Homo sapiens: one gene and its partners. The protein of the gene in region 1 interacts with the protein of each later gene in a pairwise test. Each region holds a gene or a part of one and is shown on either strand. Other genes may lie near its edges.

What was found. The genes of interacting proteins can lie anywhere in the genome.
Region 2: the proteins of C11orf65 (region 1) and CALM3 interact in binary tests that used the Homo sapiens proteins (3 or more experiments, as listed by UniProt).
Region 3: the proteins of C11orf65 (region 1) and AHCYL1 interact in binary tests that used the Homo sapiens proteins (3 or more experiments, as listed by UniProt).

The regions. Positions count from the first base shown.
Region 1 is NC_000011.10:108,391,030-108,394,529, forward strand, and holds part of C11orf65 (protein MFI), read right to left. Parts: intron 2,350-3,500; coding exon 2,179-2,349; intron 1-2,178. UniProt on the Homo sapiens protein: Acts as an inhibitor of mitochondrial fission. Interacts with MFF and prevents DNM1L recruitment to mitochondria, promoting a more fused mitochondrial network.
Region 2 is NC_000019.10:46,607,806-46,611,282, reverse strand, and holds the end of CALM3 (calmodulin-3), read right to left. Parts: intron 3,460-3,477; exon of another isoform or gene 3,087-3,459; coding exon 2,943-3,086; exon of another isoform or gene 2,802-2,942; coding exon 2,695-2,801; exon of another isoform or gene 2,438-2,694; coding exon 2,302-2,437; exon of another isoform or gene 2,278-2,301; intron 2,186-2,277; exon of another isoform or gene 2,159-2,185; coding exon 2,130-2,158; 3' UTR 501-2,129; downstream 1-500. UniProt on the Homo sapiens protein: Calmodulin acts as part of a calcium signal transduction pathway by mediating the control of a large number of enzymes, ion channels, aquaporins and other proteins through calcium-binding. Calcium-binding is required for the activation of calmodulin.
Region 3 is NC_000001.11:109,991,265-109,994,764, reverse strand, and holds part of AHCYL1 (S-adenosylhomocysteine hydrolase-like protein 1), read right to left. Parts: intron 1-3,500. UniProt on the Homo sapiens protein: Multifaceted cellular regulator which coordinates several essential cellular functions including regulation of epithelial HCO3(-) and fluid secretion, mRNA processing and DNA replication.

The DNA.
Region 1 (3,500 bases):
TATCTTTCCTTGCATCATTATTCTCTCCCCTGCTTCCTCTGGCTTCTTTTTTTCATGTTCTATTGTTCAATGACCATTAACTTGATTTTTCCTACCCCATTTTCTTATCTCACTTTTACTGATTTCTTCTGTTTTCTTACATTTCTTTACTTACACTATCTTCATTTAAATTTTTCTGCCTCTTCATGCAGTATCCACATTCTTTATTGTAGTTGAGTAAATATTGAACATTTTAAGCAGCTTTATTGAGGTATATAATTCATATGCCATACAATTCCCCCATTTAAAGTATAGTATCCAGTGGCTTTTAGTATAATATTAGCAGAGTTGTGGCTCCACCACCATAATGAATTTTCTTTTCTTTTTTTTGAGACGGAGTTTCACTCGTTGCCCAGGCTGGAGTGCAATGGCACGATCTCAGCTCACTGCAACCTCCACTTCCCAGATTCAAGTGATTCTCCTGCCTCAGCCTCCTGATAGCTGGGATTACAGGTGCCCGCCACCAGGCCTGACTAATTTTTGTATTTTTAGTAGAGACAGGGTTTCACCATGTTGATCAGGCTGGTCTTGAACTCGGGACCTCAAACAGTCCACCCGCCTTGACCTCCCAAAGAGCTGGGATTACAGGCGTGAGCCACCACGCCTGGCCCACAATGAATTTTCAATTATTTTCATTGCCTCAGAAAGAGACCCTGCACCCCATAGCCACCACCACCCCCTCCCCCCAGTTAATTCTCCACCCCCAGGAAACCACTAATCTATTTTCTGTCTCTATAGGTTTGCCTATTCTGGGTATTTCCTATAAATAAAATAACACATGATCCTTTGTGATTGGCTTCTTTCACTTAGCAGATTCATCAATGTTATGGCATAGATCAGAACTTAATTTCTTTCTTTTTTTTTAAATAGAGGCGCTGTCTCACTATGTTTCCCAGGCTGGTCTCAAATTCCTAGGCTCAAGCAATCCTCCCATCTCTGCCTCCAAAAATGCTGGGATTACAGGCGTGAGCCACTACACTTGGCTTTTTGTGTGTGTGTGTGTGTGTCTCGCTCTGTCACCCAGACTGGAGTACAGTGGTGTGATCATGGCTCACTACAGCATCTACGTCCTGGCTCAAGAGAACCTCTTACCTCAGCCTCCTGAGTAGCTGGGACTACAGTTATGCACCAGCAGGCCTGGGATAATTATTGATTTTTTGTAGAGATGGGGTCTCGCTATGTTGCCCAGACTAGTCTCAAAATCCTGGGCTCAAGTAATCTGCTTGGTCTCCCAAAGTGCTGGGATTACAGGCATGAGCCACCATGCCCAGCCCACTAATTTTTATTGTGGAATAATATTCTATTGGATAGATCTATCATATTTCATTTAGCCATTCGTCAGCTCATGGACATTTGGGGTGTCTTCTGCTTTTTTGCTATTATGATAATGCTGCTATGAACATTTATGCACAGGTTTTTGTGTAGACATGTATTTCCCCTTCTCTTGGGTATATATCTAGGAGTGGAGCTGCTGGATCACATGTCAGCTCTATGTTTAACCACTTGAGGAACTGCCAGATTGTTTTCCAAAGTGGCTGCACCATTGCACATTCCCACTAGCAGTGTATGAGTTCCAATTTCTCCACATTCTTGCAAACACTTGTTATTATCTGTCTTTTTAATTATAGCTATCCTAGTAGGTGTGAAGTGGTATCTCATTATGGTTTTGATTGCATTTCCTTAATGGGGCTACATTAAATATTCTAAAATTTCCCCCACACAAGAAATCTTAAAAATGTTTTCTAAGGGCCATAGTACATCACTGAAAACTTATAACATTTTAGTGTCTCATACAGAAAGGTTAGGGAATATAGATGAAAGAAAACCTTTGTATTATTAATTTCATGCTCTTAGCCTTTTTTCTAAATCCCAAAGTAAGAAGCAAAGCAGACTAAAGCATAAGAATAAAGTCTAAGAATAAAGAGTCCTAAGTCTAATTTTCTGTTTACTATTTTTGGATCATTCATTTTCTTACCCCTCATGTCTTCTTCTGTTCTTTCTAGACAAATAATAGATACTCGGGTTTTTTTTTTCTTTGAAGATTGTTTGTGGCCCCAAGATTCAACAAGGAAATAGGAAATGTTAGAAAAAAACTATGATGACTGCCCTTGTTCCCCAAGAATAGCAACATGTACTTACTCATCAAAGTTCAGTGTATTTGTCCAGTTCAGCACTTCATCCACTTCCCATTCCATCACAGAATCTATCCCCCCATCTTCAAAAGCTCTAATCAGCCCCTTTGTTGCAGTGTGAATTAGTCCTAGAGTTTCATGATGTGTTGACTTAGCCTCCAGACTTCCTGAGTAGTACCTAAATAGGCAAAAGGGAAAGAGAAGTAAATCTTTTGAAATAGGAGATTACAAGTAGATACAGGCAATATATATTGTTGCTATTTACATATTAAAACTATTTGCATATTGAATAAAGTTTTCATTCCTATATAACTCAGATGCATCTAAACCAAGATCTATGTGATGGAATCTTCTGGGGGGAAAAGCAACTTAACCACACTAACTTAAAATCACCCCTCAATAAGTTGCATTTTTATGATACGAAGAAAAACTAAGTTATTAAATTGTTGAATCTTAGAATTATAGAGTGGAAAGGGTCTTAGAAACCAAATAACTAACCTACTCATTTTTATAGGTGAGGAAATAAATCTTTGAGGAGTTAAGTAAATTTTACAAAATCAAGAGGCTAATAGCAGATAAAGAGGGAAGGAAAGTGAAAAAAGGAAAGAGAGGAAGAGGTAAAGGGAAAACAGATACCTTTTCTTTGTGCCAGGTACTTTTCATACAGTCTTATTTAATTCTTTTTAAAAAGACACAGCCAGGCCCAGCGCGGTGGCTCACGCCTATAATCACAGAACTTGGGAGGCCAACATGGGTGGATCACGAAGTCAGGAGTTCGAGACCAGCCTGGCCAACATGGTGAAACCCTGTCTCTACTAAAAATACAAAAATTAGCTGGGCATGGTGGCGGGCCCCTGTAATCCCAGCTACTTGGGAAGCTGAGGCAGGAGAATCGCTAGAACCTGGGAGGTGGAGGTTGCAGCGAGCCGAGATCATGAAACTGCACTCCAGCCTGGGCGACAGAGCAAGACTCCATCTCAAAAAAAAAAAAAAAAAAAAGACACAGCCATTTGTGGCAGCTATTTTTATTCCCCTTTTAGAGATAAAGAAACTGAGACCTGGAGAAGTTAAAATATCATTCAAAGCTGGGCACAGTGGCTCAAGCCTGTAATCCCAACACTTTTGGAGACTGAGTCAGGAAGATCATTTGAGGCCAGGAGTTTGAGGCCAGCCTGGGCAACAGAGAGATCCTCATCTCAATTAATAATTTTAAAAATTTTTAAAGAAATTGTTCAAGATCATGTAGCAGTAAATACTTATGAGAGCCAGTATTCAGACCCTTAGTTTTAAATTCAGCCTCCTTCTGCAGCACTGCCTGTCTTAATCTGA
Region 2 (3,477 bases), on another chromosome or scaffold:
GCTCGGGGCTCTCACCCAGTCTCGCTGGATTTCCTTCAGTTCCTTGATGTCTGGGCTTCTCTTGCCTCAGGGCTTCCATACATGTCGTCCCCCCGAACTGGAATGCCCTTCCGTCCTTCCCCTACCCGGCTAGGGGACTGCCCATCTTTCAGGTAGGTCTCAGCTCAGTCCTGCCACCTGACTGGGCTGACCCCTTCTCTGTGTGCTCCCATGGCATGATGGGCCTGCCTCAGAGGAGCCTTCTCAGTCCCCGCCTTTCAGTCCATTTGTGCGACTATCTCTAGGACAGGACCCTGCCGTTGATGACCCTGCGATCTAGCTGGGATCAGAACTGTGGTTCAGAGGCGTCCACTGGGCTGCACTGACTGGACACAGCTTCAGAGCCAGCTTTGAGGAGAGGCTCTTCCACCTCTGGGCCAAAGGAGTCAGTGCTGGGGTTGGTGTGTATGTGTGTTGGAGGGGGGCAGGCCAGAAACTGAGACAGGAGGAGAGGAGCCAAATCAGGTAGTCACTGTATTTTATTGGAAAACATTGATATATATTTTTCTTCACAGCTTGAACTGAACACAATATTGCCCGGTTTAAAAAAAACAAAACCAAAACATTCCGAAAATGTCCACAGCCTCACGCCTACCTGCCCTTACCCTCAGCTCTTGGCTGGGTCTCCCACTATGCCCCATCCCTCCTTCCCTCAGAGGCTGGGTGCCAGAGGGTGGATGAGAAGAGATTCTCAAAGCTGGGCAGGTCCCAGGAAAAGCCACTTGATCGACCTGGGCAGTGAGGGGAAGCAGGGGGTGGGGGGTGGGGTGGGGAGGTGGTGGGGGGAGCCAGATGAAATGAACAGAAAAGGGGAAAAAACCCAGACGACTGAACTGCCCACATTGACTTACTTGTCCCAGAGGCGAAAGTCAGAAGCAAGGGCACGGATCATGCTCTCCGCTGGGGGAGTATGGGGGCAGGCAGGTGGGCGAGGGAAGAGGCAGGGAAGAGGGCACGGAGCACAGATGTGAGGAAGCGGCGCCAAGTCACCACGGAGAAGCGGGAGGTGCTGGCGGACCAGGACGCAGAGGCTGCTGTAGCTGCCGTCCCCTGGGCAGCTGGCCGACAAGACTGTTTTATTGCAGGTGCGTTCTCTTGAGAGCGTGGTGGGGCCCATCTTCCCTCTCCCCACCCTTTAGCTAGCCCAGCATGGTTCTGAACAAAATGAAAGTCTTAAGGGCCATAGAGGGGAAAGAAAAAAAAAGAGAACCAGCACATTACAAAGCGACCATCCCCACATCCATTCCTAGGACGGGCCCTCAGGGCGGTGGGTGCATCGTGAGGAGGGAGCGGCATGGGATGTTAGCACCAGGTATTTACAGAACAGCTCGAGAGCGCTTCAGGAACGCGGGCAAGTCCAATTTGCAGAGTGGCCAAATGAGCAGTCCCCACCCAGCCAAACCTCAGAAAGCCAATCAGATGGTTTCAGAACAGCAGCCAGTGGGATGTGAGTGTTGCCCACTGTCAGTCCCCTTCTGTGAGTTGGCCCCCTCGACCCCCTCCTGGGCCACATCCAGTCAACGCCACAATTCCTCAACGCCCCCTCAGTCCTTCTGGAATGCCTCTCTTGGCACCCCTGCCCCAACAGGCTGCTGGGATCTGCACGTGGAATCACAGGGCTGGTTGCATGCAACGGCAAAGGGCATGCTCTTCTGCCTGGGGGAGGGCCTCTTGTCCCTCCCAGCAGGTCCCGGGACAGGGCTGGCAGCCACCCCAGCACCCAAAATAAGATGACAAACAAGAGGAAACAAACCAAAATGGAGGAGAGCCATCCGGGCTGGAGGAGGGCAGAGGCTCCCCAAGGGGATCTGGGGAGGGCTTCAACTTATGAATGCATCAGGCCTTGGAAGACATGGATGGAAGAGGCGAGGGCAAAAGGAAGAGATGAGGGGCATGGAGAGAGACTCAGGGAAGAAGGAGAAAGAGCAATCATGCAGCTTGGGACAAATCTTTTGTTGCTTTATCAGATTCTCAGTCAATCAATTGGTGTTTGCTAGAACCGGGGTACGCAGGGGAGTGTTGAAGAGAGAGTGCGCGCGCGAGAAGAGAGAGATCAAGAGAACGGGCATCGCCAGCTGCCCGGGGGGCCTTCACTTTGCAGTCATCATCTGTACAAACTCTGTGGAGTGAAGCAGAGAGAGAGGAGGTCAGGCGGGCAGGCTAAGTGGCGAGCGGCCCTCCCCAACAAGAGGGATCTGGGGGCTTGTTCCTGAAGCTGCGATTCTCTTCTTGTTCCAGAGATCAAGCCTGGCCTTGACTCACCTTCATAATTGACCTGGCCATCTCCATCGATGTCAGCCTCCCTGATCATCTCATCCACCTCCTCATCGGTCAGCTTCTCCCCCAGGTTCGTCATTACGTGACGCAGCTCTGCGGCGCTGATGTAGCCATTCCCATCCTGGGGGTTGGGGATAAAGCCTTTCACTGGGCACTTCTCCCGGTGGGGAGAGAGGCAGTGAGAGGGGTGGCTGTCATCACCATCCCTCAGCAGTGAGCACAGTGAGGGAGGCTGCCTGAGGTGGCAGAGCAGGTTGGCAATGAGGCTGGCACCGGGACCCGGACCTCCTGGAAGTGGTAGCTCCGTGGCTCCAGTTCCGCCTGTCTGCCTGAAGGCTGGCGTCAGTCTCAGAGCCGCCCCTGGAGAGGGCTGCTTACCTTGTCAAAGACACGGAACGCCTCTCGGATCTCCTCCTCACTGTCTGTGTCCTTCATCTTTCTGGCCATCATGGTCAGGAACTCCGGGAAGTCAATGGTCCCGTTCCCTGGAAGGTGGGGAAAGGATGGAGAATGCTCTTGGCCTGGGCCCTGAGAGACACGGGCTCATCCATCACCCTGAGAGAGGCTCCCTGCAGTCACTCGGGGTGACCAGGAGCAGGGCTGCCCACGCGCTCTGTGGGGCTCACCATCTGCATCCACCTCATTGATCATATCCTGCAGCTCTGCTTCAGTGGGGTTCTGTCCCAGGGATCTCATCACTGTCCCCAACTCCTTGGTGGTGATAGTGCCATCTCCATCCTTGTCAAAGAGGGAGAAGGCCTCCTTGAACTCTGGGGGAAGAAGGGGGAGGAGTCAGAGGTCACAAGGTCCACAGGAGAATCCTTACCTCTGGATGCTGGATGCCTTCCCTGGAGGAAGGCCAAGGGCATCAGTCCCACCTAAAGAAACTGAGACAGACTTCAAGTCCCACGCAACCAGCTCTCTCTCCTCAGTGCTCAGGGCAAAGCCCTTCCAACCTTCATTCAACAGTTATTGAACATCAACACTGTGCTAGGTGAAGCTATTTTTCTGGCCAGCCAGTGAAGACAGTGGGGAAAATGGTCTGACAGCTGTCCTTAGATGATTCTACATTTCTGTTTGGTCCCTGGCTTTGACTTCTCCCTTGAAATGATGAAATGAACCAAAGTCATGGAGTGAATGAGAGCCGAAAGGATTCTTTGT
Region 3 (3,500 bases), on another chromosome or scaffold:
TGTCTTGCTTGCTAAGAAAGCTGGTGCTCAGAAGCTGGGCACTGAACCCTCAAGTATTGAATAATAAGTGGGATACCACCTGGCCACCCATAAGAAACTGAATTAGTTACCAAAGCAACTGGATACATCTGCTATCTCTAGGAAGCACCTATTTCAACTTCCAAAATAGCAAAATTTGCCGGGTGCAGTGGCTCATGCCTGTAATCCCAACACTTTGGGAGGCCATGGCGGGTGGATCACCTGAGGTCAGGAGTTCGAGACCACCCTAACCAACATGATGAAATCCCATCTCTACTAAAAACAAAAACAAAAACAAAAAAAACACCAAAAAAAATTTAGCCAGGTGTGGTGGCACATGCCTGTAATCCCAGCTACTTGGGAGGCTGAGGCAGGAGAACTGTTTGAACCCGGGAGGTGGAGATTGCAGTGAGCCGAGATCGTGCCATCACACTCCAGCCTGGGCGACAAGAGCAAAAATCCATCTCAAACAAACAAACAAACAACACAAAATAGCAAAATTCTGAAGGTCTCCTTTTCCCCTGAATCTTGCCTAAGTTATACACTTGAAGTGAAACAGAACACACAAAATGTAGTGCCAACTAGAGCCTGAGCTTCTGGCTAGGATAAGCATTGGCCCAGTTCCCAGAAGACTGTAATTCTAAAGAAGGTGTGTTTCAAAGAGAGAAGGGCATGTATAGCTTTTGAGCATCAAACTCAGCCTTTGACTCAGAAGGGGCAGCCAGGGTTGCAGAGTAAGAACCAGAAGTTTGCTCATCACTGCCGGACGGAGCTGTTGTTTATTACTTTCAGAGTTCCAATGTACTTTCCAAAATCAAACTATTCAACTCATCGCTAATCCCCAAACCTCAAATACCCTATGTGAAAGCCTCCCTGTTCTTTAAATCAAGAGCATGTATAAACCAGGATACCAGTTTCAACTTTGGACAGAGTCTCCCTAATGCTAAGGGTTTAAAAGTTGTTTCAATGGTGAGAAATTCAAGTTACCTTCCCCATTATTGTCTAAGGATATCCCTATGCCCACTGCCACTGGGCTAAGAAGCTGGAGGCATATATTCAGATGTCTTCTCCCTGACCTCCTATTTCTGGCTTTATAAAGGGATCTATTAAGTTGGAAATTCTCATCAATTTCTCACCTGCAGTTCTTGGTACTTCCTTATACCTATGTGAGAGGGCTCTAAGTTAGAAAAATCACCCCAGCCAACTGAAAGGGAAAGTGAGTCAAAGCCACCACATAAGTCCAACTTACTTTCTCCAAGGAATGATTATCTCACATTATTTTATTCAATAAGCATTTATTGACAGTATTATGTGCCAGGTACTATATAAATATGTGTGAGATACGGTCTTTGCCCTCAACATATTCCATCTAGAAAAGTCAAATGATGAGTAAAATTCAAATATCAGGTCAGTCCTTAAAATATAATAGTTTGAGAAGTACTACATTGAAATCCAACCTATTTTTGAGAGACATACAGAAGCAAATTATTTTGTTTAGTTTTGATAATCTACTATGTGAGCTACTATTTCAAACACTCCTACGGAATCAGCTCTGGAGCTTCAGGGGCATCTGCATTTCATATGAAGAGCAGTAGAGTTGAGATAATACCAAAAATTCCCCCAAAGTGGCCGAAATGCCGGTTCGAATGTGTGTTAAGTTCCTGAGCTGAACTCTCAAGGCACTTATAATGAGTCTTTTGGGAAGCTGAGGAGCATCCCAAAGAGGGAGCTGACAATGCCAACAACCTCAGCTTTGTTCCAAGCCATAAGGACAAACTGCAGGCTGGAAACTTAAATCTCTTAGCAGTTTGTGGACTTGTAATGAAAAGAGATGCTGTGGCTTGGAGGCCTGGCCTTCCACATCAGGACTTTAAAACCCAGGATCCATGAGTTTCAGAAGTCCCATAAATCCTCTAACAGAATACGCATATTTTTGTGCTCCTGAATTTTCCTGAGGAAAGAACCAGGATTTTCATTAAACTCTTAAAAGGACCTCTGACTCAAAGAGTAAGAACCATTGTTCTACAGTCTCTAATCCAGTGATTCTCAAGAGCATTCCCTCAAATAGGCAAAAGAGAAGCATATTCCAATTCTCTATCTTCTACACAAATCTGTCTACTTACTGACCTCTCTTCTAAAATTAGAAACAAAGATGGGGATGTGCATTTTGAAAATTCAAAGTGAATCTCTATTTTCTACATCCCCAAAATAAAGCTAACAGTCATGAGAACCTGAAGTCTTCTCCTTAAAGTCTTTGAGAAAGGAGAAGGGGTGGGTCTGGTCAAAGAGGGCAGATCAGAATCTCTGTCCTTTAACTTTTTTTTTTTTTTTTTTTTTTGAGACGGAGTCTTGCTCTGTTGCCAGGCTGGAGTACAGTGGTGCGATCTTGGCTCACTGCAACCTCCACCTCCTGGGTTCAAGCGATTCTCCTGCCTCAGCCTCCCGGGTAGCTGGGACTACAGGTGTGTGCTGCCACACCCAGCTAATTTTTTTTGTGTTTTTAGTAGAGATGGGGTTTCACCATGTTGGCCATGATGGTCTCGATCTCCTGACCTTGTGATCCTCCTGCCTCGGCCTCCCAAAGTGCTGGGATTACAGGCGTGAGCCACTGGGCCCAGCCTGTCCTATTAACTTTTATGGTAGGTCTCTCTCTTTTCTTCCCCCCGCCCCCAGATTTCTGGAACCACAAAGGAAACAGGTCATGGCCCAAAAGCTTTGACGTGAGGTCTTGACGTGAGGTCAAGCCAGTCTTGGGGGAAAAGGGACAAAGTATTTCCCATTAAGCATATGGAAACCTATGTCCCAAAGGTTCACCTTAATACAATTAGTAAGTACTAGAAGAGTTGGAGCCATTTATTAAAAACAGAACTTCCAAAATCCTCTCATTGCTCAAAACTCAGTATGAACGGCTTCATTCAGGAAGTCTAAGTGAATGAAAGATGGTTATACTCATCTCCTCCAGCCTCTTGCCCCTTTACTCTGTCACTCACAAATTTACTACGTAGTTCACACTGAGCCACACATCATTGTGGATCAGCACATTAGCATTTTCCTTGGCACACAGGCTCAGAGGGATTCCACTAATGCCATCGTACACTCGCAGGTTCCGGAGAGAAAAGAAAAACATGTCAACAATAGGGTGTGCTCTTGCTGAGCAGTTCCTCAAATTGTGAAGAAGTAAGCCTGAGGCAGGTCCAAGATGAACAGCATGGAACAGAGAGCAGTCCCAGACCCCTCCTGTTTAATATGCCCCATTTCCATCACACAACTGAGTACAGGCTGTCCACTTTAAAACAAGTGAACTGGCTTGGGCTGGTAGAGAAGAACATGTTAAGCCCATTAAGCCCCACAGGTTAAGTACACAGGCACATCAGCGGAGGCGTTGGGGCTTTTATGGTAAGAAGCAGGAGCATGCTTGGAGAGTCTTGTACCTGTGGTTCTCAAAAGTACTTTTCCAATCTCTACCCCAGATTTCCAAATAC